Linked DNA regions of Homo sapiens: regions 1, 2, 3, 4, 6 and 7 are each linked to region 5. The links come from fine-mapping of genetic effects on gene expression. A gene starts in region 5. Each other region holds a variant in brackets. All regions are shown on one strand. Distances are from middle to middle.

Region 1 (4,069 bases), 100 kb before region 5:
AAATATAATCATTGGCTTCAGTATATTCCAAGAAAGCTGCAAAATCGAGCTTGAAAAATATTTGACTAAATGTCCACAAATATATGTTAGTGTTACTAAATGCTGAATTTAATACTTATAAAAAGCTTATTACATTCAAGCACAACTTCAGGCTAGCCTTTTTTCACTTTACAAAAATTCCTGAGGAGGCCTAATGAGTACCAAAATATCAGAGTCGAGTGTAAATTACAATGTAATTTACAAAAGTAAAAGTAAAAATGTAAATACATTTTAAATTTTCAATTAAAAAGTATATATAATGTGGGCTAGGTGTGGTGAATCATACCTGTAATCTCAGCACTTTGAGAGGCTGAGGCAGGTGGATCACTTGAGGTCGGGACTAGCCTGGCCAACATGGCAAAACCCCGTCTGTACTAAAAATACAAAAATTAGCCAGATGCGGTGGCTCATGCTTGTAGTCCAGGGTACTCAGGAGGCTGAGGCAGGACGATTGCTTGAACCTAGGAGGCAGAGGTTGTAGCGTGCTGAGATTGCACCACTGCTCTCCAGTCTGGGCGACAGAGTAAGACTCTGTCTCCAAAAAAAAAAAAAAAAAAAAAGTATATATACTGTGGATTAAGCATACCTTTATGATATTTTTATGATGTGGGGTGGGTTTGGATTTCTACAAATGGGAGTACTATGGCTCTCCTATGTCCCATAATGGTCTTGGGGAACTGACTAGTTTGCTTTAAACACAGCCCAGATCCATTTTGTATATACAATCACTCCTCCAGCCCACTCAGTTTTCCATGGCTGCATGTTGTTCTTTGACTACGTCTCTTACAGAAGTAGATCTTGATGATTTGGTCCTAAGGCGATCAGTATATTGCCAATTTTAGAAATGTCCCCAACAGTTCTGTTCCAAGATGGCCAAATAGGAACAGCTCCAGTCTGCAGCTCCCAGCGTGATCAACACAGAAGACGGGTGATTTCTGCATTTCTAACTGAGCTATGTGGTTCTTCTCATTGGGACTGGTTGGACAGTGGGTGCAGCCCACAGAGGGCGAGCTGAAGCAGGGTGGGGCATGCCTCACCTGGGAAGCCTAAGGAGTCCAGGGATTTCCCTGTCCTAGCCAAGGGAAGCTGTGACAGACCGTACTGGGAAAATCGCGACACTGCCACCAAAACACTGCGCTTTTCCAATGGTCTTAGCAAATGGCACAGCAGGAGATTATATCCTATGCCTGGTTTAGTGGGTCCCACACCCATGGAGCCTTGCTCACTGCTAGCGCAGCAGTCTGAGATTGAACTGCTAGGCGGCAGCCTGGCTGGGGGAGGGGCTCCGCCATTGCTGAGGCTTGAGTAGGTAAACAAAGCGGCTGGGAAACTCGAACTGGGTGGAGTCCACCGCAGCTCACTGAGGCCTGCCTGCATCTGTAGACTTCAACTCTGGGGGCAGGGCATAGCTGAACTAAAGGCAGCAGAAACTTCTGCAGACTTAAACATCCCTGACTGACAGCTCTGAAGAGAGCAGTGGTTCTCCCAGCATGGTGTTTGAGCTCTGAGGACGGACAGACTGTCTCCTCAAGTAGATCCCTGACCCCCATGTAGCCTAACTGGGAGACACCTCCCATTAGGGGCCAACTGACATCTCATACACCTGGGTGCCCCTCTTAGTTGAAGCTTCCAGAGGAAGGATCAGGCAGCAATATTTGCTGTTCTGCAATATTTGCTGCTCTGCAGCCTCTGCTGGTGGTATGCAGGAAAACAGTGTCTGGAGTGGACCTCCAGCAAACTCCAACA[C/G]ACCTGCAGCTGAGGGACCTGACTGTTTGAAGGAAAACTAACAAACAGAAAGGAACACCATCATCAACAAAAAGTACATCCACACCAAAACCCCATCTCTAGGTCACCATGATCAAAGACCAAAGGTAGATAAAACCACAAAGATGGTGAGAAACCAGAGCAGAAAAGCTGAAAATTCTAAAAACCAGAGCACCTCTTCTCCTCCAAAGGATTGCAGCTCCTCACCAGCAACGGAACAAAGCTGGACAGAGAATGACTTTGACAAGTTGGCAGAAGTAGGCTTCAGAAGGTCGGTAATAACAAACTTCTCTGAGCTAAAGGAGGATGTTCGAACCCATTACAAGGAAGCTAAAAACCTTGAAAAAAGATGAGACGGATCACTAGAGTAAATGGTGTAGAGAAGACCTTAAAGGACCTGATGGAGCTGAAAACCATGGCATGAGAACGACGTGACGCATGCACAAGCTTCAGTAGCTGATTCGGTCAAGTGGAAGAAAGGGTATCAGTGATTGAAGATCAAATGAATGATATGAAGCGAGAAGAGAAGTTTAGAGAAAAAAGAGTAAAAAGAAACAAAGCCTTCAAGAAATATGGGACTATGTGAAAAGACCAAATCTACATTTGATTGGTGTACCTGAAAGTGACAGAGAGAATGAAACCAAGCTGAAAAACACGCTTCAGGATATTATCCAGGAGAACTTCCCCAACCTAGCAAGGCAGGCCAACATTCAAATTCGGGAAATACAGGGACATCACAAAGATACTCCTCGAGAAGAGCAACCTCAAGACACATAGTTGTCAGATTCACCACGGTTGAAATGAAGGAAAAAATGTTAAGGGCAGCCAGAGAGAAAGGTTGGGTTACCCACAAAGGAAAGCCCATGAAACTAACAGCTGATCTCTCAGCAGAAACTCTACAAGCCAGTAGACAGTGGGGGGCCATACTCAACATTCTTAAAGAAAAGAATTTTCAACCCACAGTTTCATATCCAGCCAAACTAAACTTCATAAGTAAAGGAGAAATAAAATCCTTTACAGACAAGCAAATGCTGAGAGTTTTTATCTCCACCAGGCCTGCCTTACAAGAGCTCCTAAAGGAAGCACTAAACATGGAAAGGAACAACCAGTACCAGCCACTGCAAAAACATGCCAAATTGTAAAGACCATCAATGCTAGGAAGAAACTGCATCAACTAATGGGCAAAATAACCAGCTAACATCATAATGACAGGATCAAATTCACACATAACAATATTAACCTTAAATGTAAATGGGCTAAATGCTCCAATTAAAAGACACAGACTGGCAAATTGGATAAAGAGTCAAGACCTATCAGTGTGCTGTATTCAGGAGACCCATCTCATGTGCAGAGACACACATAGGCTCAAAATAAAGGGATGGAGGAAGATCTACCAAGCAAATGGAAAGCAAAAAAAAGCAGGGTTGTGATCCTAGTGTCTGATAAAACAGACTTTAAACCAACAAAGATCAAAAGAGACAAAGAAGGCCATTACATAATGGTAAAGGGATCAATGCAACAAGAAGAGCTAACTGTCCTAAATATATATGCACCCAATACAGGAGCACCCAGATTCATAAAGCAAGTCCTTAGAGACCTATAAAGAGACTTAGACTCCCACACAATAATAATGGGAGACTTTAACACCCCGCTGTCAATATTAGACAGATCAACGAGACAGAAGGTTAACCAGGATATCTAGGACTTGAACTCAGCTCTGGACCAAGCAGAACTAATAGACATTTATAAAACTGTCCACCTCAAATCAACAGAATATACATTCTTCTCAGCACCACATTGCACTGATTCCAAAATTGACCACATAGTTAGAAGAAAAGCACTCCTCAGCAAATGTAAAAGAACAGAAATCACAACAAACTGTCTCTCAGGCCACAGTGCAATCAAATTAGAACTCAGAAATAAGAAATTCACTCAAAACCACACAACTACATGGAAACTGAACAACCTGCTCCTGAATGACTACTGGGTAAATAACTCAATGAAGGCAGAGATAAAGATGTTCTTTGAAAGCAGTGAGAACAAAGACACAACATACCAGAATCTTTGGTACACATTTAAAACAGTGTGTAGACGGAAATTTATAGCACTAAATGCCCAGAAGAGAAAGCAGGAAAGATCTAAAATTGACACCCTAACATGACAATTAAAAGAACTACAGAAGCAAGAGCAAAAAATTCAAAAGCTAGCAGAAGGCAAGAAATAACTAAGATCAGAGCAGAACTGAAGGAGTTAGAGATGCAAAAAA
Region 2 (4,069 bases), 140 kb before region 5:
AGGGAAGGGTTTAGAAAATGCTAGGAGGTGAGCATTTTAAATAGTGTGTTGTCAGGGAAATCTTCACTGAGAACTTGATGTTTGAATAAAACCCAAAGGAGGGAAGGTAGCAAGCCAAGCTGATGTTCTGCAGGACAGTGTGCCAAGCAGAGAGAAGAGCCACTCACAAGGCCCTTGGGGACAGGTACTGGAGGAATGCAAAGGGGCCAGTGTGAGTGGAGTGGATGAGGCTAGCAAGAGGAGACAGATACTGCAGGGTCTTGTAGGCCATTGATAGGTCTCAGCACCCTGCTAAAACCATGACCACTGCGTCATGTGTAACCCTGACATTTGCAAAGCATTCATTTTCAGTGTTTGCTTATATCCTTGATCAAACTTGGTTCAACCCCGAGAGGAAGAGAAGCAGACCACTTCTCATTGTCTCCACTTTAGAGATAAACCAGACGCCAAGAATACTGAATAAATGACCAACTTCTCAGAGGGTGATTTGACCTCCCGTCTCTTAATTTCTAGACTGTTGCTTTTTCTACTGCATCTTCATTGTATTTCAGGCCATTTGTGCTTTGAAAATGGAGAGCTGATAAAAACGAGGAAGCTCAAGCCTTATCCTCAGCAATTATCTTGGATCATTTTGATTCAAGGGCTCTCTCATTTCTTGGTTTATTTATCTCACTATCCACAGCTACAAAGCAATGGTGCAGGGTACACACAGCCCAGCTCTACTGGGCACCATTCGTACAGACTGCAGTGTGAATTGTGCCCCTTGGTGTTGAGCCAAGTGCAGGCACTGCTGTGGTGTACTGTCTTTCCTCATCTTGACTTTGTCTCTTATTTCTAGCCTCACATTTGAATTCTCTGTAGCAGAATTTCATCTTCCCAGTTTTGAGTTTTGGCAGTCCCTAGATAGAACATGGTTTGCACCCACACTTTCGCAAATAATTGACCTAGACCCAACCCAGTCTTGAGACATCTTCTGGCATTAACTGCCTAGAAGGTATCTCAGTTGTTCCTGTTCCCTCCTGTCCCTCATGCCTAACAAGATTTGGGACAGTTTTGAAACCACTTTTGCAAAAATTTTAAAAATGTGAAAATTATGACAGTAAAAGAGATCTGATCTAACCAATCTCCATCTTGCCTTTAACTTCCAGACTGTCCTTGGCCATTCCTAGGCTTGGGTCTAGCTAACTTTGGGAGAAATTTAGTTTATCATTTAAATGATAACAGCCCTTCCCCAAAAGTAAACCATCTTTCTAAAACTAATGAAAGACTACCAGGTTAGGAGGATGAGAGGAGGCTGAATTCTGCTAAGATGTAGGCAGAATAAACTATTACCTATAAACAAGGTAATGAACCATTACCGGCCATTATTCCAGAGGTCACAAGATTTGCAAATTCTCCGATTACTCCTGTAGATAACATCGCTATTGTGGAACCTAACAAGATTGGCCTTTTGAGATGTCCTTTCAGATTTTTGCATTTCTAACTACCAGATGGCCCACCCGGACCCAGGACTCTGCTCCTGTGGCTCCTACCCAGAAGGGACTCTGTACAAGGACCACTTTCCACACCGCTGTGATTGCATCCAATCAAGCAGTACCCATTCCCTCAGCCCCCCGCCCACCAAACTATTCTTAAAAAACCCTAGCCTCTGAATTCTCAGGGAGATTGATTTGGGTAATAACTTCATCTCCCACATGGCATGGCTGGTCTTGTGTCAATTAAACTTCCTTATTGCAGTGTCACGGTTGCAATGAATTGGTTTTGTCTGGACAGTGGGCAGGAAAAACCCATGGAGCAATTACAGTTTCCTTCTATATCTAACTATCCACCCTTGAGGAAATCAGCTCATAATCTTAGGTAGTTGGTATTTATCTCTGATTCTTGTGTTTATATATTTCAAATCCTCCCAAACCTTGGGCTGCAAGTTTTTTCTGTATGCTG[T/C]CTTTGTGGGGTCTTTGGCAGTTTTTTCACAAATGACTAAGCTTGAGCCAATTTGATGAATGGAGTCTTTAGAAACGGATTCTCGTTTGACACACAGATCTGCTAAGCTAATAAACTTTGTTATGAGCTGAGCAAATTTCCTCTTCTGGAATCTTCCCTGTGGTGACCGGCCTGTGCTGGGGAGGAAATCAGCTGCTTTCTCAAGGGCCTTTGTGTCCCCAGCCCCTGCTGCAAGTTACAGAGGGGTGACCTCTACCATGTACTTTCCCACGCCCCACCTCCTGACTCTGGGGTGTGCGAGTGAGTGTGAGAATCCTTGAAGTTACATAACAGAGAGCTCAGGCAACAGACTGCTTCTGCTTCCTCCATCACCAGGAGAGCTTACTTCTGACTTTGGATCCCAATTCTTCACTAAGGATGCCCTGTCCTTTCTCAATTAAATTTCCTTTCACTTCCTCTAACCCTTCAATCTTGGATTCCCTTTGATCACGTAGTTCTGTTAATCCATAGCCAGGAAGTTTTTGGAAGAAACAGAGGCACCCTTTATCTCTTAACATATGAAATACATACAGGATATACGCATATGAGCACATGCAGTACCAATATGGCACCATGCAAGGACAGCCATCAGAGGATATCCCCACAATGCAACAGCAAATTTTCTTGCTTTCTTATTTACTTATTTATTAATTTTTATTTTTTGAGATGGCATCTCACTCTGTCACCCAGGCTGGAGTGCAGTGGCCCGATTTCGGCTCACTGCAACCTCCACCTCCCGGGTTCAAGTGATTCTTCCGCCTCATCCTCCCGAGTAGCTGGGACTATAGGCGCGCATGCTAATTTTTGTATTTTTAGTAGAGACTGGTTTTCACCATATTGGCCAGGCTGGTCTCGAACTCCTGACCTCGTGATCCACCTGCCTTGGCCTCCCAAAGTGCTGGGATTACAGGCGTGAGCCACCGCACCCGGCGTACCAAACCAATAAAAGAAAAAAAACCGCTCACAAAGCAGGCCACACTGACCCTCCCAATAGTGACGCAAGATAGAATTTCTGGGAGGGGTGTTATAAGAAATTAAGAACTATATATTTGATTTCTGCCCCTGGTTCCTGGTACAAGAGCGTCTAAGAACCCCTAGGAGCTCCCTGAGTGATGGGAGTGGGAGGAGCTTCTTTTGTCGTTCCTAACAAGTTGGGGACTGGTTGCCAGAGGAATCAAATTCAGCCCCATCACCCGCCCCAAACCTAAGGAAGGGGAGAGAGGCTGGGGATTGAGTTAATCACCAATGGCCAATGATTTAATCAATTGTGTTTATGTAATAAAACCTCCATAAAAACCCCTAAATAATGGGGTTTGGAGAGCTTCTGGACTGGTGAACACGTGGAGGTGCCTAGAGGGTGGTGCTCCTGGAGAGGGCATGGAAGCTCTCTGCCCCTTCCCCATACATTGTCCTGGGCGTCTGATACGGTTTGGCTGTTTCCCCACCAAAATCTCAACTTAAATTGTATCTCCCAGAATTCCCATGAATTGTGGGAGGGGCCCAGGGGGAGGTAATTGAATCATGGGGTCAGTCTTTCTCGTGCGTGCTATTCTCGTGATAGTGAATAAGTCTCACGAGATCTGATGGTTTTATCAGGGGCTTCCGCTTTTGCTTCATTCTCATTTTCTTTTGCCTCCGCCACGTGAGAAGTGCCTTTCGCCTCCTGCCATGATTCTGAGGCCTCCCCAGCCATGTGGAACTGTAAGTCAAATTAAATCTCCTTTTCTTTCCCATCTCGGGTGTGTCTTTATCAGCAGCGTAAAAACGGACAAATACAGCCTCTCTTCCATACGCTGTTCCTGAGTCGTGTCTTTTATAATAAACGAGTAGACTGTTTTCCTGGATTCTGTGAGGCAGTCGAGCAAAATATTAAATCCAAGCATGGGGTCGTGGGGACCCCTTATTTGTAGCCAGTTGGCCAGAAGTTTGGAGGTCCAGATTTACTACTGGCATCTGAAGTGGGGGGCTTGTGTGTGGGACTGAGCCCTTCACTAGTGGGGTGTGATCTAACTCCTGGTGGTTAGTTTCGGAATTGAGTTGAATTACTGGACACCTAGTTGATGTCTGGAGAGTCACAGTGTTGGTGATT
Region 3 (4,069 bases), 38 kb after region 5:
TACAAAAATTAGCTGGGCGTGGTGGCGGGCACCTGTAATCCCAGCTACTTGGGAGGCTGAGGCAGGAGAATTGCTTGAACCTGGGAGGCGGAGTTTGCAGTGAGCCGAGGTCGCACCACTGCACTCTAGCCTGGGTGACAGAGCAAGACTCTGCCTCAAAAAAAAAAAAAAAAAGAAAAGAAAAATTTTTGTTAAAATTTAAATACTTTTTCTGACTCGTTCTTGGTCTATTTTGTTCTAGGGCTCTATTTACACATGCCTTAATACCACCTTGAAGGTTATTTTGACTGTTTTAAGTCCTTTTTCTTCCAGTGCTTTACTTAGGATGATTTAAGTTGATCCAATTTCAAGCTCACTTATTCTTTCTCCTTTATGTAAAATCTTCTATTAATACCATCCAATCAATTTTTTTTGTATAAAATTTTTTTTGCTCTAAAATTTTCACTTAGTTTTTTATTGTGGTTACCCTGATACTCCTTACTCTTGCCACATATATCCATCTTTGTACATTTTTAAACATATTTTCATAGTTATTTTAAAATGTTTGTCTGCTAATTCCAACATCTGGGTCATCTGTGGGTCTATTCTGCGTTATACTGTTGTGCCTACCAAGCTGTCATCTCTTCTCTAGGTTCTTCATTGCCTTGGCCCAGATATGTGTAGTTCAGAAGTCAGCAAGGGACTTTTGGTATTTATATGTAAATATTATTAATCATTTTTCATATTATACTATAACAAACTATATATTTTGAAATTAAGGTTATCTTAATTTATAATAAGATTCCAAGGGTTAAAATTATATTTTGGGTTGAGGTACTATGATAATTACATAATAAATCACATATAACACAAATGTTAATAAGTGGTAAATATAAAAAAAAAATTTTATGAGAAAATCACTTTTAATGAGATGGATGGGCTTTCTTTTGACCTAGTCTCGCTCTGTAGCCCAGGCTGGGGTGCAGTAGCACGATCTCAGCTCACTGCAACCCCTGCCTCCTGGGTTTAAGTGATTCTCCTGCCTCAGCCTCTCGAGTAGCTGGGAGTCACCATGCCCAGCTAATTTTTGTATTTTTAGTAGAGATGGGGTTTCACCGTGTTGGCCCAGCTGGTCTTGAACTCCTGACCTCAAGTTATCCGCCCCCTTCAGCCATGCAAAGTGCTGGGATTACAGGTATGAGCCCCTGCGCCTGGCTGGATAGGCTTTTTAAAGTTTAATTTACTGATGTGTTTGTTAAACGTTAGTTATTGCTAGAATGATTCAGTGTTCAGCATCAATTTTATTCTTATTCTACTTTCATACGTGTAAGCATATGGAATACTATTGTATGTAAATAAATAGATAACAATGGAAGAAAATTTGTTAATACTAATGCCATTCTGTTCTTAGAATTTCTTCCTAGTTACATGCTAAAAAGTCATAAACTCTTCTAACATTAAAAATGATTTTCAAGAATTGTTTGCTTACAGCTGGATTAGGGCCTCCTACATTTTTTTCTTTAGAAAACAAGGAACTAGAGACAATTTTTTACCCAGTGAATAGAGTCATTTATTTTCTCAAGACCAGAAACCAGTATTTTGAATTGTCTCATTGTTTGGTGTCCTGGAGGACTTTATGTCCCAGGGCTCGGTACTCAATAAATGGTAGCTATTCTCACTGTTTATGGGCCCCAGAGACCCTCAAGGCACTGACTATAC[C/G]CCTACTGTGGCAGTTTCCTCTTATTCCCTTCAAAATATCCAACATGAATTCACAATTTCTTTTAGACTATTCAGATCTATGTAGATAATCTCTTACCTTCTTTATGAAATTGTCCTTAGCACTTCCAGCCCTCAGAGATCTTTTCAGAACTCTTCCAGCATACAAACTGTTCTACATCATTATCAGGGTTACTTACATAATGTTGTATACTGTTTTCTTTCTCTGTTAATCATGTGGCCCGAATAAGATTACACCCTTTCTGAGAACAGCAGTTCTGATTTATAATTCTACAAACTACACACATACCTCATTGCTGAATATTTAATTGGGTTTTAAATGACATATGTGCCATTTCACATTTTAATTCTTATAGTATATCTTGGCTTCTGATCAGCATAAGCTGGACTCCTAACAAGAATTTGCCCATTGCACTTGATTGTGATTTGCCCCAAATTTCCAAGAAACTCAGTCTCAGGAATTACACAGTGCTTCAGTTTCAATCTCAAAACTAAAGAGAGAGAAGGGAAAGAACATTTAACTCCTACATGGAGGAAATAGTATTTACATAACTAAAATTGTAAGCAACTGCTTTATATTCTTGATCATTACTATACTTGAGTATTGTGAATTTACTGATAAACAGAAGAATGCGATATGTAATAATAGGTAGATAAATTATCAAATTACTCTGATTGATTTTATATTATTTTGAAATGATAGCAGGGTTAATACAAAACTATGGGATTCCTAGGGGAAATGATTAGCTGGTACTTCATCCTAACTTTCCTGTAATAATTTTGGATGTCTGAAGCAGTGTCAATTCCGGCAAACCCTGCTGAAGAAATGAATTTGTGTTTCTTCATGAATCACTTCCTTTTTTATTTTTCATTCATTATGCATTTATTGATAATGTGTGAGTCACACGAAGGTGAATATAATATGTGGTCCCTGCCTTGACTCTCTTCTTTGTTCCTGGCTAGTAATGGGTTAACTGGAAAGTTACTCTCCTCCTGCCATCTCCATTTCCTCCACCCTTCCCCACAAACAGATAAATATGCTGAACCCCCAATTATTACATGGTATATTCAAAGTCACCTGAAAGTTTAGGAATGTGGCTGACAGCACAATTTCTCAATCTTTTTAATACTTACTATCCTTTTGAGGATCTTAATAGACCTTTTTTCTTTTATTTTATTTTATTTTTTTTTTTTGAGACAGAGTCTTGCTCTTTTGCCAGGCTGGAGTGCAGTGGCACAATCTCGGCTCACTACAACCTCTGCCTCCTGGGTTCAAGCGGTTCTCCTGCCTCAGCCTCCTGAGTAGCTGGGACTACAGGCACGCGCCACCACGCCTAGCTAATTTTTGTATTTTTAGTAGAAATGGGGTTTTGCCATGTTGGCTAGGATGGTCTCGATCTCTTGACCTCATGATCCGCCTGCTTCGGCTTCCCAAAGTGCTGAGATTATAGGTGTGAGCCACTGTGCCCGGCCGATCTTTCTTTTCTAACAGTGCCCCACCCATGAAATTTTAATACCACAAACAGACTGTATTTCTTTTTTTAAATTTTTTTTTTTTTCAGACAGAGTCTCGCTTTGTTGCCCAGGCTGGAGTGCAGTGGCACAATCATGGCTCACTGCAGCCTTGACCTCCCAGGCTCAAGCTATCCTCCCACCTCAGCCTTTCAAGTAGCTGGGACCACAGGCATGGGCCAACGCACCTGGCTAGTTTTTTAATTTTTTTTTGTAGAGATGAGGTCTCCCTATTGTTGCCCAGGCTGGTCTCAAGCTCCTGGCCTCAAGTGATCCTCCTGCCTCAGTCTCCCAAAGTGCTGGGATTACAGCTGAGAGCCCCTGGCACGTGATGCATACTGTGTTTCTGTTTAGTGATGTTGGCCTTTCAGAGGGCCACAAACCATTATAATATGAGAGATTCTTTTTACTCCCTAAAAAACAATTATTGCCCCCTTGGCAATGCTGCTTCTCCCATTAATCATGCATGGTCTTGAGTGTCAGCCACACATATTCTGTTGGATGTCTCGCTGGCCCTCAGTGTTGTCCCTTGACTTTAAATAAGAGGTCACTGGGAGGATCCAGAAACCGCTAAGTGCTAGGAATGTATCTTTGTGCAAGATAGTCATTGTCCTTGTCTTTGAAGAAAATAAAAATATTTTTCCCCAAAATATTTTTGACATATTTTGCAATGGCTGTTCGGAGAGTCAGCAAACACATGTAACCCTACAAAGCTGTTTTTATTGGGGAGGGTTAGTTTTTCAGGGCTGGGCACATTACCCAAATCAAGCCAGTGATTACCAAGTGCATCTGTAGAGAATCTGCATTGAGGCAGCCAGGCCTTCCCTTGGCCACATCTAGG
Region 4 (4,069 bases), 44 kb before region 5:
TGTGCAATTTATATAATATTTAAATGCAAGGGATGCTCCCCCATTTGTCCTCTGGCAACGGCCCTCCTTGAGCTAAAGAGATTCCTCCACTAATACCTCAGCAGCAGCAGCCTAATTAAGATCCCTGATTTTTCTCCAGCAAAGGAGGTGCATCCTTCCAATGGTAATTCCCTAAACTTGTGTTCTGCCTCCCTTTACTAGGCCTTTCTCTCCAAGGTCAAATAAGCTTCCCCCCACCGCCCCCACTCTCTTTACTAAGTTAAAGAAGGGTTCACAGATTTCCCCACCTTATTTTCCTTGGCTGCTATGTCTCCCCGCCCTCCTGATCTTACTTTGACAAGTTTCTCTAAGGTCTTTCAATTGCTGTCAAATTGCCCAGCCTGCTCCTTCCTTACCTGGACCTGCACCCTCAGCCATGACCCCACTGGCTTCACCCACAGCCTGTCCCTGCTAAGGAGGCCCAAGAGTGAGTCTAGATTCCGCACGTCACCTCGGGCTCATTACTTAACTTTTCTGTGTCTTGATTTCCTAATTGTTCAAATAATGACTATAAGGGGCCTAATTCACAGGTGTGCTGTGAAGATTTTAAAAATTAATGTGCACAAGTTCATGCACATAAAGTTAATTTGCATAAAGTGCTCAGCACAACACCAGCAGACAGTAAACGCTCTGTACATATGAGATATTATTATACGATTCTGTGCAAACCCCAAAGGCAGGGTTTGCAGGCAATGTAATCACCTCTATTCCAACTGCACAGGTGACAAAATTTACAAAGGTTGAAATTTTAGGTAAAATCAATTATTTTGCATTGTATACAAACCCTATCTCTCTTCCAAAATATACATTGTTTGAATTTATATGTATTTTTATAACACTTTGTGATCACGCTCATCTTTGCTTCTCACTAAACATTAAATGTGATATAACCTAACTGAGGAAAGTAAGGATGAAATTTACTTGTTCTGAAGACTCTATCCACCTTACCTATCTGGAGACAGACTAGCTTATTTTAAGATGTAAAATTCATGCAACTGATTGTTTTCTGAAATAATCGGTAGAATTCAGTTGAATCCAGTCAACTACAAACATGTATTTTACAAAGCAATTATTATTATATTTTTAAACAAAGCATCCTTTGGGCTGATTTTGAACTTCAGCAAAAGGCTTGTGTGCCATTCTACAAATTGTCTTTTTCAGAAGAGTGGATGCTAAAGGGCCTACATGGGTCTGTTAGCTCCGCTCTGATTTTCAATAAAGACCAGCGATAATGATAGTGACAAGAATGATAATAGCCACCAGATACTGAGCACTTAGCATGCTAAGAATTTTACCAGGAAATTCCTATTTAATTCTGACAACTGCCCTGAATATTAGATATTATTAGCTTTATTTTATGAAGGCAGAACTAGGGCACAGGGAATTACTTAATTAGGAAGTAGCAGAGCCAGGACCTGCTACTGTACCTGTTTGTCCCCAAGTCTGAGTTGTTAATGACTGTACCATAAAGCCCTCTCAAACTCATGCTTTAAGGGAAAGAAAGACCACCGTATAGTGCTTTATGCTATTAATTTTCACTCACATTATGATTTTCTTAGGAGTAGGAACTCAGTAAGGATTAATGTGGAGTATGGTAGGGAAAGTACCAAACCAAGAAGCAGGAGATCTCAGATATGTGCACTTGGGCAAGTCACCTGATCTCTTCAGATGATAGTATTCTGTCTATAACATGAGCAGTGTTAAAGAAGAATATTCCTGACACTGGTTAAAATGGTAAGGCACACTTTATTCAGGACCATCACCATTGGTATAAGGTGTACTAAATGGAGTTTTGCAGTAATCAGGAGAAATTGGGCTCAACTTCAAAAACAACAAGAACAATTGGGAATTTATAGCCAATTTTTAGCAGCAGAAGGAAAATTACTAAGAGGAAACAT[C/G]AGAGTTGGAGGAGATTCTGGCTAAATCCAACTAATAGGATTCTTATTGAAGGCAGGCCAGGCGAATCGGATGTCACCTGAGGGATGGTGGAGGATGAGGAACTCAATCACATATCAAAGGTGACATATCGAGGGTCCTGCCTAAACTAACTTAGCAGAATTCTTGCTAAAGTCGGACTCTTGAGAACACATCCAAGGACATGGAATGAATGAAAAAGAGCTCAGAGGAGCCTGTCTAGAGTTTGGTCAAAGAGAGAATCTTTGTCAGGAGGTCAGTGACTCTAAGATGCACACCAGCCTTACCATTCACTTCTCACATGTGTCAGGCATGTTGGTGTGAGAAGATTATGTAAGGGAGTGGTGTTGAGGTGTCTCAGATTTTGTGTCCACTGTGTGGAATGTATCATAATTTGTTTATCCATTCATCAGGTAACAGGCCATCTTCATTTTTTCCAGTTTTAGCAATTTTAAGTAAAGCTACTGTAGTAGTCAGAATAATACCTGCTCCATCCCATTTTTGTTGTTTTTTGTTTTTGAGAGTTTTTTGTTTTGTTTTGTTTCTGTTTTTGTTTCTGTTGGTCAGGCTTTAATGCAATGGCGCGATTTCAGCACACTGCAACCTCCGCTTCCCGGGCTTAAGCAATTCTCCTGCCTCAGCTTCCCAAGTAGCCAGGATTACAGGTGCCCACCACCAGGCCCGGCTAATTTTTGTATTTTCGTAGAGACTGGATTTCATCATGTTGGTCAGGCTGGTCTCGAACTCCCAACCTCAGGTGCTTCCTCCTGCCTCGGCCTCCCAAAGTGCTGGGATTACAGGTGTGAGCCACCACGCCTGGCTCTACCCCTTTGTCTTCTACACACAATGCATCTGAATCATAATCTCCAGAAACTGTGAATATGTTAATGTCAAAAGGGATGTTGTGGGTATGATTAAATTAAAAATTTTGAGATAAAGAAATTATCTTGGTTTATCCAGGTTGGCCCAGTATAATCACAAAGGTTCTTATAAGGGAAGCAGGGAGGTAGGAGAAGCAGAGCCGTGTGTGTGTGTGTGTGTGTGTGTGTGTGTGTGTGTGTGTGTGTGTCTGAGAGACAGACAGATTTGAAGATGCTACATGGCTGGCTTTGAAAATGAAGGAGGCTACAATCCAGGAATGAAGTCAGAATCAGCAAGAAAGTGAATTCTCCCCTAGAGCCTCCAGAATAGACAAAACCCAACATACTTTGATTTAGCCTAAGAGTTATTTTGAACTTGTAACCTCAGAATTGTAAGATAATACATTTGTCTTGCTTTAAACCACGAAGGTTGTGGTAATTTGTCACAGTAGTAATAGGAAGCTAATACAGCTGCTCTAAATATTTACTGTAGGTTTTGCGTCGATATTTTGCATTTCTCTTGGGTAAAATTCCTAAGAGTGAAAATCTGGGTCCTAGATACATGTAAGTTTAACTTTACTAGAATCTGCAGAACTGTTTTACAAAGTGGCTGTACCATCTGGCATCCCCACCAACGATGTCTGGGAGTTCTAGTTGCTCTAAATCTTTGCTAACAATAAAGTTGGTCTTTTTATTTTAACCTATATAATATTACAAATTATGTTGAGCATCTTTTCATATGTTTCTTTCCCAACAACATTTTTTCTTTGGTGAATTGTCAAAATATTTGTTCATTTTTAAACAGTTTCCCATCCCCACTACCATCACCTGCCTTCAGCAACCACTAATCTATTTTCTGTTTCTGTCGGTTTCTCTATTCTGGACTTCCATACAAATGGAATGATAATATGTAGTCTTTGGTGGCTGGTTTCCTTCCCTTAGCATAATATTTTCTAGGTCTATGTGGGATGTGGTAAGTAATAGCATGTATCAGTACTTGGTTACTTTTAATGGCTGAATAGTGTTCCGTGGCATGATTATGTCCCATTTTGTTTATTCATTCGTAGGTTGATGAATATTTGGGTTGTTTCACCTTTTGTGCCTTATAAATAAATGTGCTATAAATGTCTATGTACACATTTTTTGTGGAAATATGTTTTAATTTCTTCTAGTTATGTACCCATAGTGGAATTACTGGGTCTTATGGTAACTGTATATTTAATTGTTTGACCAACTGTCAGACTTCTTTGAAAGCG
Region 5 (4,069 bases):
TATCCAATTTTGCTTTGATGGAATCTATACTTAGTGTTTGTTTTGTTTTGTTTTAATTTTATGAGACAGGGTCTCACTGTCACCCAGGATGAAGTGCAGTGGGGCAATCACAGCTCACTGCAGTCTACTGAAACTCCCTGGCTCAAGTGATCTCTCAGCCTGCTGACTATCTGGGACCACAGGCACAGGCCACCACGCCCGGCTAATTTTTGTATTTTTTTTTTATAGAGACGGTGTCTCCCTATGTTGCCCAGGCTGATTTCGAACTTCTGGGCTCAAGCTGTCTTCCGGCCTCGGCCTCCCGAAGTGCTGGGACTACATGGGTGAGCCACTGCTCCCTGCCAACTTTTTGTTTTTTAACCTAACAAAAATGTTTCACAAATTAATGCCAAAATAAAACAAACGTTTAGCGGCCATCAAAGCTATGGAGAGACTCTATTATAACTTGAACCGCTGGGGACGTGCCGCCTGAGAGCACATCCAAGCGACACCGCCCTAATTGCAATTCCAGCATGGAAGAAAAAAGGAAATGTTGTCCCGTGTTATGAATGGCTTCAGCTGCTCTCTATGCTGCTGTTGCATGTTTACTGAATCGAGGTTCGAATTAAGCAGGCTGCCTCCATTGCGGACAGGTCTGAGACATTCTCATTTGGCCCCGAACGCCTGGACCCCAGCGAGCGGGCGGTTCCCTGGCGGCGGTGACCACCGTTGTGCTCGCTGCCTCCACGCGGCGCCCGTCAACCCCACGTGCTCGCAGCCGCGCGGCGGGGCCGGGCGCCCGGAGCTGACCTCAGCCCCCAGGACAGAAAGGGTGGCCAAACGCAGACCTGGCAACCCCCCGAGTCGGCGACCACAGATTGCTGGTGGCTGCGCCACGGTTTCGGGAGGGTCAGCCCCTCGCTGGGTTCTCAGGGCACTAAGAAAAGAGGGGCATGCGAGCCTGGAAGCTGGAGAGAGTCCGGGGCTCCCCAGAGCGGGTGGGACGCCGCGTCCCCAGGACTCCGCGCCACGCGTACTTTCTCCACCCCGACACCCACTGCCACTCCCACAGCGGAGCGAGGGGCCCCGCCGAGGGCGAGCGTACCCCGTGCGGCTGAGATGCCCGGAACGCCTCCCCGCGCCCCGGCTTCCCCAGAAGGGGCCACAGTCGGCCCGCGAGTCCCCGGGCGGGGGCTGAGCCGCAGTGCCAACCAAGGCGAGGTCACCTTGGCCCGCGCGCCTTTCATTCCAGGGCCCCTCCGGCAGAGAGGTGACTGCAGGTCACCGCCAGCCGGGCCCTTACTCCCCGCCTCCGCCGTCCCGGCCCCCACACCCCGGAACCTCCCCGGCGGAGCCTGCGAGCCCGGGAACGCGGTCCCAGCCAGAGTGGAAGGGATAGCGCGGGAACCCGGCAGAGAGAAAAAGCGGGAACTGGGCGCCGCCGCTTCACGATCGGGAGGAGATTCCCTCCCGGCCCCTCCTGGATCCCACTCCGGGGACCGTTTCGGGGCTAGAGCCCAGGCTGGGAGAGTCCCTGGGCGCATCCACCGCCCCTTCCAACTTCCTTCTTCTCATCCTCAGTTCGGGTGGCAGTGGCCACCCGCCGGGTCTGCAGGTGGAGGGGAGTTTGCGCGCAAAACTTACGGTCGGCGGCGGCCACCCCTCCGCGGGAGGCGGTCAGACTCTGGAGCCACACGGCCAGAGTCAGCACGAGCAGGGCTTTGCTCTCCATCTCGGGGCGCGTCCCTCTGGAGGAGCTGCAAGGCGCGGACCGACTGATGAGCCGGCTGAGCCGGAGGCTGGAGAGGGCTGGAGCCGCGGTTTGGCGCTGAGCAAGTCGCCCTTTAAAGGGGATGGCAGGGCAGCTAGAAGTGGGCAGCTTTCCCTTGAGGAGGAGGAAGAGGGGGAATCGAGTCTGACACTGTTTTCACGCCAAGGCTGCTTATGTGACTGGAAATATGCAAATAAACCTCATCACCTATTGGCTATAAAATCATAAGTTGGGGGGAGGGACCTAAATTCACTTCTAAACGTTTGAGCAAACAGTAATGAGGATCAACCCTGCCAACGAGAAGAGGGGGAAAGGGCAGACGGAAAAATTTGCTTTGTTAGGCTCCTGTTCGCTTAGCTTAAGGGGTTCCACTCTACCCGGGGGCCCCCTGTCTAAGCACCAAACACAGGTTTACATCGATTCACGTTAAATACTCAACAATCACCTGTTTTCCAAGGAGGGAAAGTTTAGCTGTTAAATTACATTTGATCGGCACTTTAATACACCTCTCTTTTGACGAATCCTGTTTGTCACTTGCAGTCCTCCCTCACTCACCCCGCACCCCATCCCCACCCCCGCAAAGTCAATGTAGGGATAGAGGGACACACATTGCGTCCCAGCTTGTGCTTGTACAATCTGGTGTTTTAACATTGGCAAGATGGATCAGCTTATGTGATGGAGAAAAGCCTACTTGCTCTAACTAGTTTCTAATTTTTGTCTCATGCAAATTATTCTCAATCCTCAAACTCATCAAGGAATGCAAGGATAATATTTTATGTTCAGAGGCAGAACATCGAGGTCAAATAATCTAAAGCCGTATTGAGTTATGATAAGTGAAAGAAGATAGTCGCAAAAGACACATATTGTATGATTCCATTTAAAGTGTCCACAAATAGACAAATCCATAGAGACCAAAAGTAGATCAGTGCTTGCCTGGGGCTGGGTAATTAATAGGGGAAGGGAAGAATAGAGATTTGGGGGTAGTTGATGACAATGTTCTAGATTACATTATGCTGATGCTGCACAACTCTGTAAATATACTAAAAGCAACAGAATTATGCACTTTCAATGGGAGAATTATATAGTGTGTAAATTATAGGTCAGTAAAGCTATTTTTAAATGGATAAGAGGCATGCACATAAAATAAGAAAAAAATAACATTAGATACTATGCTTTTCTGCCAAAATGCTTGGAATACTTTTAAATATCTTTTTAAATATAAGGGATTTACATTAGCCAGGAAGGACAATGAAGTGTATCCCCAACCCCCTCTCAGTTTATGGCTGAGAAACTGGCTCATCAAATCAGAACCTCCAATCTACTATATTTATGGTCTGAATATTTTTAATGTCCCCTTTTATTCATCCCACCCTCCGTCACACACACACAAACATACAATGCACAATTGTAGGTTAGAACAATGAAATGCTTTTTAAAAAACTGGGCTCACTTTTTAAGTTTTTCTCAAAAAATGAAATAAAAGTTGATAATACCCAAATATTTCAAAGGTCTCTATTCTGCATAACAATTCTATCTTTAAGTTGATGCATTCCGTGCCACAACACAACACACCGTCTTGTATTGCAATTATTACACAATATACTGTGCACGTTCACTCTAACCTACAAAGTATGTAGAGAATCTTGAAACCTGCCAAAAATTAAACTTCGCAGAACTTTAGAAGTGGCAGAACAGACCATGCAAGGGATGAATAACTATGATATGGCCGTCCTCCAAAAATCATGTAGTAAACTCTAATTTTAAAAAATGACAGAAGATGAATACAATTGCATTGGATGTGTTCATGGTGTGAATGGCATATAAACAGACGTGCAGAACTGCCTGCTATCTTATATAGAATACTCCTGCAGCCTATTTTCATGCATAAATGTCCTTTGATAAGACAACCAAATCAAACTGCACTTCTGTGCCTTTCAGAAAACTGCAAGGAGATTTTATATAATTGCTAAGGGAAAGTCTGATACTTATAGCGTATTTTTAAAATGATTTCCCAGGCTAACCAGATAACAAAATTAAAGCACTCAAGAGTTGGAGGATATGTAATATTTAAATATGAATCCAGTTTGGAGTGAACTGTGCCATTAGCACGTCCAATAGAGTTGCTGAGATTTCCAGGAAGACTTAATTTACAGCAGCTTAGCCTGGTTAAAAAAAAAAAAAAAGCAAGACAGGTTGGCTCCTCTCCCAGGGCCAGCGCGGAGCAGGTGGGTGTGGCGGCAACGTTCTCTCCTGATTGGCTGCACTGGGAGCCATCAGGTGCCCGCCTTCTAACGCAGAAACTCACATGATCTCTAGGTC
Region 6 (4,069 bases), 34 kb before region 5:
CTCTTTCCTAATGATCTATTTTGGTCAATATCTCAGTTCCTTTTTGTCTCCTGGTTGTTTTCTCCTTCTTAGGACATATAGGAAAATCTCTTTCTAGAACAAATTGTGTTCCTTTTCGTTACATCCTTGAGAAACTCAGTTTAATGAATCAAAGAAGGTATTTTTAGAGCATCCTACATGTTCTGTTCCCAGGAAGAATGAGTGTACTGGTCAATTTTGATTACACCCTCTGCTTGTAGAAACCTACAGAAGTGGAGACATGGAGAGAAAAATGAGAAGTTTCATTCATTTATGCTGCTTGTTGGAGTTTAAAAGTACTTATTCATGACAGTCTTTATTCATTTATGTATGCATTTGTTCAACAAATTATTAAATACACTTATTTTTATACTTTGAATTTTTAAAAGAAAAGTAGATGGATAATATAATCGTTATTGCCAAAGGAACTGAGAAGGCAAGACAAACAGTGATGCAAATCAATTTCTGGGCAACAGAATGCTGGGGGAAATGTAGGGCCAAAATAATATTGCAACAGCATTTTTCTAGCTTCTTCGTCCCCCTTCTTTATATCCAGGTATCTTCAGCATCTTTAAATCATTCATAACAAACTTGGGTGAGAAACAGAGCAGTGAGTAAAGTCAGGGTTAGCATGTACAGTATAGTGCCTGTGCATGAATTACCAAAATTTGCCCACTCTGGGCAGATGAATTACAAAAAGACAAGTGTATGAAGACCTTTGTCACTCCTAGCTTTTTTTTTTTTTTTTTTTTTTTTTTTTTTTTGAGACGGAGTTTCGCTCTGTCGCCCAGGCTGGAGTGCAGTGGCGCGATCTCGACTCACTGCAAGCTCCGCCTCCCGGGTTCACGCCATTCTCCTGCCTCAGCCTCCCGTGTAGCTGGGACTACAGGCGCGCGCCACCATGCCCGGCTAATTTTTGTATTTTTAGTAGAGACGGGGTTTCACCGTGTTAGCCAGGATGGTCTCGATCTCCTGACCTCGTGATCCGCCCGTCTCGGCCTCCCAAAGTGCTGGGATTACAGGCGTGAGCCACCGCGCCCGGCCCACTCCTAGCTTTTCTATATACTCCCATAAGTCTGCTCAAATATGCCACAGGCTGCATGACACTAGCACCTTGCAAAATTGCCCGCACATCGTAGGTACTTGATAAAAATTTGCATTGACCTTACATTTTCCTTCCTTTTTCCATCCGGCTGTTACTAATATCACTTGTCACAACCCACCACAAACGAGTTGCCGAAGCACAGGGGGTGTCAAGGTTCCCTGACCTGTGGAGTCCGCACTGAAGTCAGTGCAGCTCACAAAAGCCACCATAGACCCCAGCACATTAGAAGCTTGCTGGGAAAATGTTGGACCACCATGCCCCACACCATGGATGCCAAATCTAGCAATTCACAGATTATCATAGTTGCTTCTCCCTAAACCTCAGGCAACTCCCATAGGCTGGGCTGCCAGACAATAGAAACAGACACATGGTGGAAGTCAAAGTTGCCTCTCCTCTCTGTCTTGGGCCTCCATCCTTGAGTCACTTTTATGTGTTTTGCTTCTCTTTTCTCTTGGGAAAAATTTTTTCTGCCAATGTATTTCTGGTGCACCATCTCCAAGTGCCCCAGATATGTTCAAACAGGCTTAAAACTCAAAGGGGGGAAAAATCAACAACTCCAACTTTGAAGTCACACATTGGTTTAAAAGCCAACTCACCCACTTACTAGCTTTGATTTCTAAATTAATTCATTTCCCTGCATCTCGTTATATTCATCAATAAAGAGAAGATAAAAATACCTATTTCAGGAGGCTATTGTGAGAATGAAACAAATGTTAACCAAGCACTTCACACAGTGCCTGGCACATAGTTGATGCAGAAAAACTGGTAGTAATTATTTTTAGTAACACAACATCGGAGCAAGTACATGCAACACTTGTGCTGACAGGTAGATCGTAGTGGTAACATAGCAATGGAAGAAAAAAAGATTTCAGAAGGGAGCTCAGAAGAGTGAAAGTAGTCATTAAAGGTACTTAGAAAATAGGGTGGTCATTATAGGCAGAGAGGGACATTTGAGCAAAAATATAGAGACTACAGAAAAAAACTTTGTTTAGGGAAAGAGTAAGAGGCCAGGTTGTCCGGCGAAGAGCTTTATGTTAAATGCATGAAGAATAACTGGGATTAGTTGGAGAAGTCTGGGGAGTACA[G/A]TGATTTATTGTCTTTACCGACCTACTCTCCTTAACTTGCAACTTGGACCATTTGATCACCATTAAGGGACTTTAGGAATCCAAATTTTGGCCTAGCACAGCATGACTCAGGAAATGGTGTTGGGATTGCATCCTCAGGCTATCCCATTGTGGTGATGTGAGCTTGGACTTTGCACATAACCTCTCCCCATTTGTAATGGGGCAATGGTGCCAACCTCATAGAATTATTATGAGGATTAGAAAAGATGTATTTGAGGGCCTGGATCACATAGTCTTTGGATCTAAGGTGCAGATCTTGTGCCAATTCTTAGCGTCTCATCCATGATGTGATTTCTGCTGCCACACCAGTGCCATCTGGAAACATAAAGATTAAGGGAAATATCATCATCCTCAGCTTATGCTGCCAAATTTTATAAATCTTATTATTGATTCTTATCTCCTTTAGAGCTTTCTCCAGTTGTGTGCTAAGAAGGAATTTCATTTTGATTATGAAACCTTTGTGTTTCACATTTGGCTGAGGAGGCATTGTCTTTGACTTAGCAATCTCTTGATTAAAAGACCCTGGAGTTGTTGGAGCCCTGTCAGCGGAATGGGTGGAGTCGGAGAAGTGCCTTCATTCCAGATACCTTCTCTTAATCTCATGTCAGCAGATTTCCATTGTAGGTCCAGAGCCTGTTACAAGAGGATGAAGGATCTGAGCCCTGATAAAGGAATGAGGTCCCTATGCTGGAACTCTAGCACAGGCTTTCTGAGTGAAGTCTGTTCAAAGCCCACATTTCCTGAAAAATCAGTCATCATGAGGAACTGATCTGTGAGGACCAGAGAACAGAGTTGCCAATGTAATTCGATGGAGAGAGGATATTTTTTTCAACAAATTGCTGGAATAATTTGACTATGTAAAAAAGAAATTATTGCCACAACTACCACAACAAAAACAAAAAACACCTCTAACCACAGATAGTACCATATACAAAAATTAGCTAGAAATGGGCTAAATGTAAAACAGGGTGAATAACAACAGTATGCGTACAAACACACACATGCATATGCAAACAATAATTTATAGTTTTTTTGTTGTTAGGCAGGATGAAAAATACAGAGAGTTGAAGTACTGGGTAGAGGAATGGGATGCTACGATCTACTCTAGAAAGTTCACCTGATTCATTATTAATAGACTAATGAGAAGCAAGAGCAGTAGCAGAGAAACCAGGAGAGACTATTGAAATAATCCAGTGAAACCTGATGGCATAACATTAAAAATGGTAAAATGCAGTCAGATTCTGGATATATTTTTAAGTGAAGCTGATAGAATTTTTTTTTTTTTTTTTTTTTGAGACAGGGTCTTTCTCTGTCACCCAGGCTAGAGTGCTTTTTCGCTAATAAAAGCTCGCTGCAGCCTCAACCTCCTGGGCTCAAGCTATGCTCAAACCTCAGTCTCCTGAAAATACAAGTATGCATCACTATGCCCAGCTAAGTGTTTTTTTTTTTTTTTTTTTTTTTAGTAGAGATGGCGTCTTGCCATGTTGCCTGGGCTGGTCTCAAATTCCTGGGCTCAAGTGACCCTCCTGCCCAGGCCTCCCAAAGTGCTGGGATTACAGGCATGAGCCATGACACCAAGCCAGTTTTTTTGACTGATTGATTATGTATTGCGGAAGAAAGAACTCAAGTATGGATTCCAAGATTTCCTCCTGAGCAACTGGAAGGAAGAAATTCTTTTAACTGGGAGGAGAAAACTGGTGGATAACAATGTTTTATAACATGATAGGTTCCCAAAACCTATTAGAAAGCCAAGTGGAGATATTTGATAGACAAGTGGATATATTAAAAAGTCTGAAATTTAGAAGCGAGGTACAAGATGGAG
Region 7 (4,069 bases), 150 kb before region 5:
ATGTAGGGAGACTTTGTCTCTATTAAAAAAAAAAAAAAAAAAAAAAAAGACTCTTACTGATAGCAAGTACCCTGAGGGAGTGTGTGGTGGGTAGACTCCAATTTTTGCTGAAGGTGGCAGTGGAGACATCCCCCTTCCCCTGTTTCCAGGGCTGCCCCAAGACAGAGGGTCCCCTCTGCTGCCTGGCTGGCCTAGCCAGAGTTCCGGCTCTTCTGGAGATCCTGCACATCTCCTGAGAGCTTTGACTCAACCCCTTTCTTGTTTGAAATGTTTTAAAAATAACCATGCTTAAACTCCACCCAGCCCCCGCCCCCACCCCTGCCCCCAAATCCTTACTCAATTATTGGGGAGGGGAGGAAGATGGATTTTTTTTAATTTTTTTTTAATTTTTAAAGTGCTTTACAGGCAGCTATAATAGGCAGCCAAAGATAAAAGGCGTGAGTTCAATCAAGACAGTGAAGGCAAAATTCAGGAAGAGTTTTAGATTAAGTGGTACTTTCCTGATGAATGACAGCAAGTTGCAGAGGGCCTTGGGCCAGACTGTCAGGGTGTGCAGGCCCTCTGGGCATGGGGGTCTGGCCAAGACAGTCCGTCTGGGGATTTGCAGGCTGACCCCCACTGGGCACAAAAAGACTAACCCTGGTGGTCTTCAGGGAGATTGTGGCAGTGAGGCTATGAGGGTTGGGGAAGGGCCAGGGGTCTTGACTGAAGCACTGGAGCTTTATCAATCTTCCCTAAGCTATTCTAACAGCTAAGCAGTCAACAAGGGAAGTGCGGGGACGTGGTGGGTGCTCACTGTGGAACAACCAACAAAGGATGTGAGACAAGAGGGAATATCCTACCCGTTTCCTCTGACAATGGGAGAGGGTGGGTTATGGAAAGATCCTCTCTATGTGGTCATCCCCAACAAGGTTAAATTTACATGCTGAATACGGTCACACATTTAAAGTACTTAAAGCAGTGCCTATGGCATAGGAAGAGCTTAATTAATAAAGGCTAAGCAGAAAGTAAAAGAGATGTCTCTGAAAATGCTTTTCCTTTCTGTGTATCAGTGTAAGAATTTTTTTTTTTTTTGAGATGGAGGCTCTAAAAACAGGAGAGCCCTGTTGCCCAGGCTGGAGTGCAGTGGCGTGATCTCAGCTCACTGCAACCTCCGCCTCCCAGGTTCAAGCGATTCTCCTGCCTCAGCCTCCCGAGTAGCTGGGACTACAGGCGGGTGCCACCATGCCTGGCTAATTTTTTGTGTCTTTAGTAGAGACACAGTTTCACTATGTTGGCCAGGCTCATCTCAAACTCCTGACCTCGTGATCCGCCTGCCTCGGCCTCCCAAAGTGCTGGGATTACAGGCGTGAACCACCATGCCTGGCCCTGTAAGAATTGTTTGTCTTCAAAGAACTAATGTAGTTGACAAAGCCAGTGCATTTACCCATCAGATCTCTTTTCCTGCATCTCCTGGACCTGGGGTAGATTCTGTGATTTGGCATATTCTCAAGATTGATGGCAAAAAGTTTCCTGCAAATACATTCCAGAAGACCCATGATCCAGAACCCATTTCCAGGGCTCTGCATGGCTGAAAACATAGGCAGAACACGTGAGGAAATGTTCCACTGAGCTCAGCTCCTTTTGGAGTCTCCAGAGTTTGGGATTTACTGGTCCAAAGGCTGTGTCTCTCTCTATCTCTTTTATTTCTTTTGCATAATTGATCCCAGCAGAATTCTGTGAGAGGAGTAGGAAGACAATATGTCTTCCGTTTACTCTGATGGGCCCCTCACACATTGAAGTTTCTTGTTGAGTGCTATGAAGCAAGAATTTATGTCTGCTTTGGAGATCTTCTAGAACACGTATTGAGAATTTACTCCTTACTGTGTGTTGGGACCTGTGCTTGCTCTCATTCCTGTAATCTCATGATCTTTATGACAATCCTGTGAGGTAGGGTAGGGGAGTCATTAAGATTTTAAAGACAAGGAAGCTTAAATTTAGAAAGCTGCTCATCTAAGGCCATGGAGTGAGTTGGTAGCAGAGCTGGGATTTGAACTCATCACCTCCCCAACAGACCTTTCTTCTCCTCTAAGTGCTGTGACCCACAGCTGTGTCCTGGAATACAGTAAGCCTCTGTGGCAGTAAATGTCCCTTGGTATCCCCCTAAGTGCTGGCTTCCTCTTGGACTGGGCCGTCCAGTGGGAAGTGAGATTATGTTAGATCTACTCCCAGCCATTCACATCAGCGGCCC[C/G]ATTTGTTTCCCAAGACTCAAGGGTCCCAAGGGTTTGGAAGCACAAAGAAGTGCCTCAGGATACCCACGTCCTGGCTCCCTAGACTGATTTGTCTCCAGGCGCCAGTGTCCTGACCCCTGGTATATCTGCATTCCTCATCTTCTTCTGTCTGTTGCAGGGACAGGAAGTGGGGAAATCACTGACCTTTGACTTAAGAGGAAACACGGAGAGAATAACAAGCAAATGCAAGATGACTGTTAATCAGATGATCCTGCCATCTCCAGATGGCTATCTCCATGCTGGGGGCAAAGGAAGGGAGCCTGCCGGGCCAGTCTGTTTTTTGAGGCGTGGCTTCTCTGTGGCTTTTGTGTGGGTTCCTTGGTCTGAGTACCAAGAAGCTGTTGCTTCCTGGGATGTTTAAAAATCAATCAAATATGGAACTTAAACACGTAATTCATCCAGGGAACCAAAGTGGCAAAGGTGGGGCTAAGAATTAGAACTGGGTTTCTTGTCTCTTTATTCAGTGCTCTTTCTGATAACAGTATAAAGGACAATTTCTGGAAATATTAAATTTCTATTTCGAAAACAATGTGAAGTTTTCTAAATAACAGGTGGAGATACTGCCCCCTGTCTATGAAGTTCCCAAAGCTGGGTCAAATTTGGAAGACATAATTTCTTACACTGATACATAGAAATAAAAAGTGTCTTCAGAGATATAATCCCTTTAATTTCCTCCCCAACCTTTATAACCTCTTACGGTGGGCTAGGCACTGCTTTAGCAATATAAACTGAGTTAAGGCATTTAATCATGTATGTAGTTTTAATCATGACCACATTAAAGATATTGCTGGAAAATCATAGCATTGGCTAACGCTCATGTCCAGATGCTGACAGAAGTGTTTTGCACATGTTACCTTATTTAACCAAAACTCCTCCTCTGAGCTCTAGACCCAAATCACCACCCACCACTTCAATATCTCCTGTTGAGTGTCTCAACAACACATTGAGTTAAACATGTCCTAACGGAAGTGTGTGCTGCCCCGCCCCATCCCAGACCCTCCCAGTGTCCCCTGTGGCAGTGAACAGCATCTATTAAACAATACCTAGACTGAGGAGTTGCCCTTGACTCCTCCCTCTCCCTTGCACCCCATTTCTGATCCATCACCAAATTCTGTGGATTTTATGGAACCCTATGTTTCTCTCAGGCCTATCCACACTTCTCTACCTGACTACTCTATTCCAAAATACCATCATTTCTTACTTAGATTTTGACGGAAGCCTCCTAACTGGTCTACCCATATCTACTCTTGTGCTCCTTGAAGTGTTTTCTAAATTGCATCCAAGATAATTTCCTTAATAAGACAAATATTAACATATTCTCTTTTTAAACACACATTAACAAGTCCCCACTGCTCTTAGGATAAAGACAAAACTCAGTATGGTGAGGAGGGCTCTGTATGGGGCTGCTGCCTCCCCTGCCCCCTTGGTTTCTATGGCATTCTCCTGCCTCTGCAGCTATACTGTACTTCTTTTAGTCTTGTTCCATATAATAGTCCCAACAGTCACAGGACCTTTGCACATACTGCTTCTCCTTGTCTAGTTAAATCTCTCGTCATTCATATCTCGGCCTTCCCTAGCCTTTAAGATTAATGAAAATCTCTCCCATTCCATCTTTTCATAGCATCAAGGACCTCTCACTTATAAGATTTGTCATAATTATTATTTTTATGTATTTATGTGGTTCATATCTTTCTTCCATAAGGGCAAGTGTATCTATAATTGCTCAAAATTGTATTCCCAGTGCCAAGAATAGTACCTAACCTATAGTAGATGCTCATTTTATAGGTGTTATCTGATAG

Direction of the effects. Positions count from the first base shown, and alleles are read on the strand shown. Sizes are in standard deviations (SD) of each study's normalised expression. Not every link is listed here.
As copies of C replace G in region 4, the expression in spleen of the gene that starts at base 1,899 in region 5 goes down (moderate effect, 0.74 SD a copy in GTEx).

The links. PIP is the estimated chance that this variant, and not a neighbour inherited with it, causes the effect.
Region 1: its variant is the best candidate, but not a certain one, in a credible set for the expression of LPL in whole blood (INTERVAL, PIP 0.85).
Region 2: its variant is the best candidate, but not a certain one, in a credible set for the expression of LPL in blood mononuclear cells (TOPMed, PIP 0.52).
Region 3: its variant is the best candidate, but not a certain one, in a credible set for the expression of LPL in tibial nerve (GTEx, PIP 0.88).
Region 4: its variant is the best candidate, but not a certain one, in a credible set for the expression of LPL in spleen (GTEx, PIP 0.57).
Region 6: its variant is the best candidate, but not a certain one, in a credible set for the expression of LPL in lung (TOPMed, PIP 0.65).
Region 7: its variant is the best candidate, but not a certain one, in a credible set for the expression of LPL in whole blood (TOPMed, PIP 0.64).

The regions. Positions count from the first base shown.
Region 1 is chr8:20,038,284-20,042,352 of GRCh38, reverse strand. No RefSeq gene overlaps it. Among named protein-coding and RNA genes, the nearest start is that of LPL, 100 kb to the right of the region's middle. The variant C/G (reference allele first, on the strand shown) is at 1,786.
Region 2 is chr8:20,072,278-20,076,346 of GRCh38, reverse strand. No RefSeq gene overlaps it. Among named protein-coding and RNA genes, the nearest start is that of SLC18A1, 110 kb to the left of the region's middle. The variant T/C (reference allele first, on the strand shown) is at 1,942.
Region 3 is chr8:19,899,518-19,903,586 of GRCh38, reverse strand. LOC107986921 (a long non-coding RNA gene) reads right to left here and starts at 1,855. Exons shown (of 3, transcript XR_001745822.1): 1 at 1,796-1,855. The variant C/G (reference allele first, on the strand shown) is at 1,699.
Region 4 is chr8:19,980,766-19,984,834 of GRCh38, reverse strand. No RefSeq gene overlaps it. Among named protein-coding and RNA genes, the nearest start is that of LPL, 44 kb to the right of the region's middle. The variant C/G (reference allele first, on the strand shown) is at 1,938.
Region 5 is chr8:19,937,083-19,941,151 of GRCh38, reverse strand. It overlaps LPL (lipoprotein lipase), which reads right to left and starts at 1,899. Exons shown (of 10, transcript NM_000237.3): 1 at 1,624-1,899. The coding sequence starts at 1,711.
Region 6 is chr8:19,971,550-19,975,618 of GRCh38, reverse strand. No RefSeq gene overlaps it. Among named protein-coding and RNA genes, the nearest start is that of LPL, 34 kb to the right of the region's middle. The variant G/A (reference allele first, on the strand shown) is at 2,209.
Region 7 is chr8:20,085,268-20,089,336 of GRCh38, reverse strand. The region is part of intron 1 of LOC105379311 (a long non-coding RNA gene); the gene reads right to left. Among named protein-coding and RNA genes, the nearest start is that of SLC18A1, 96 kb to the left of the region's middle. The variant C/G (reference allele first, on the strand shown) is at 2,231.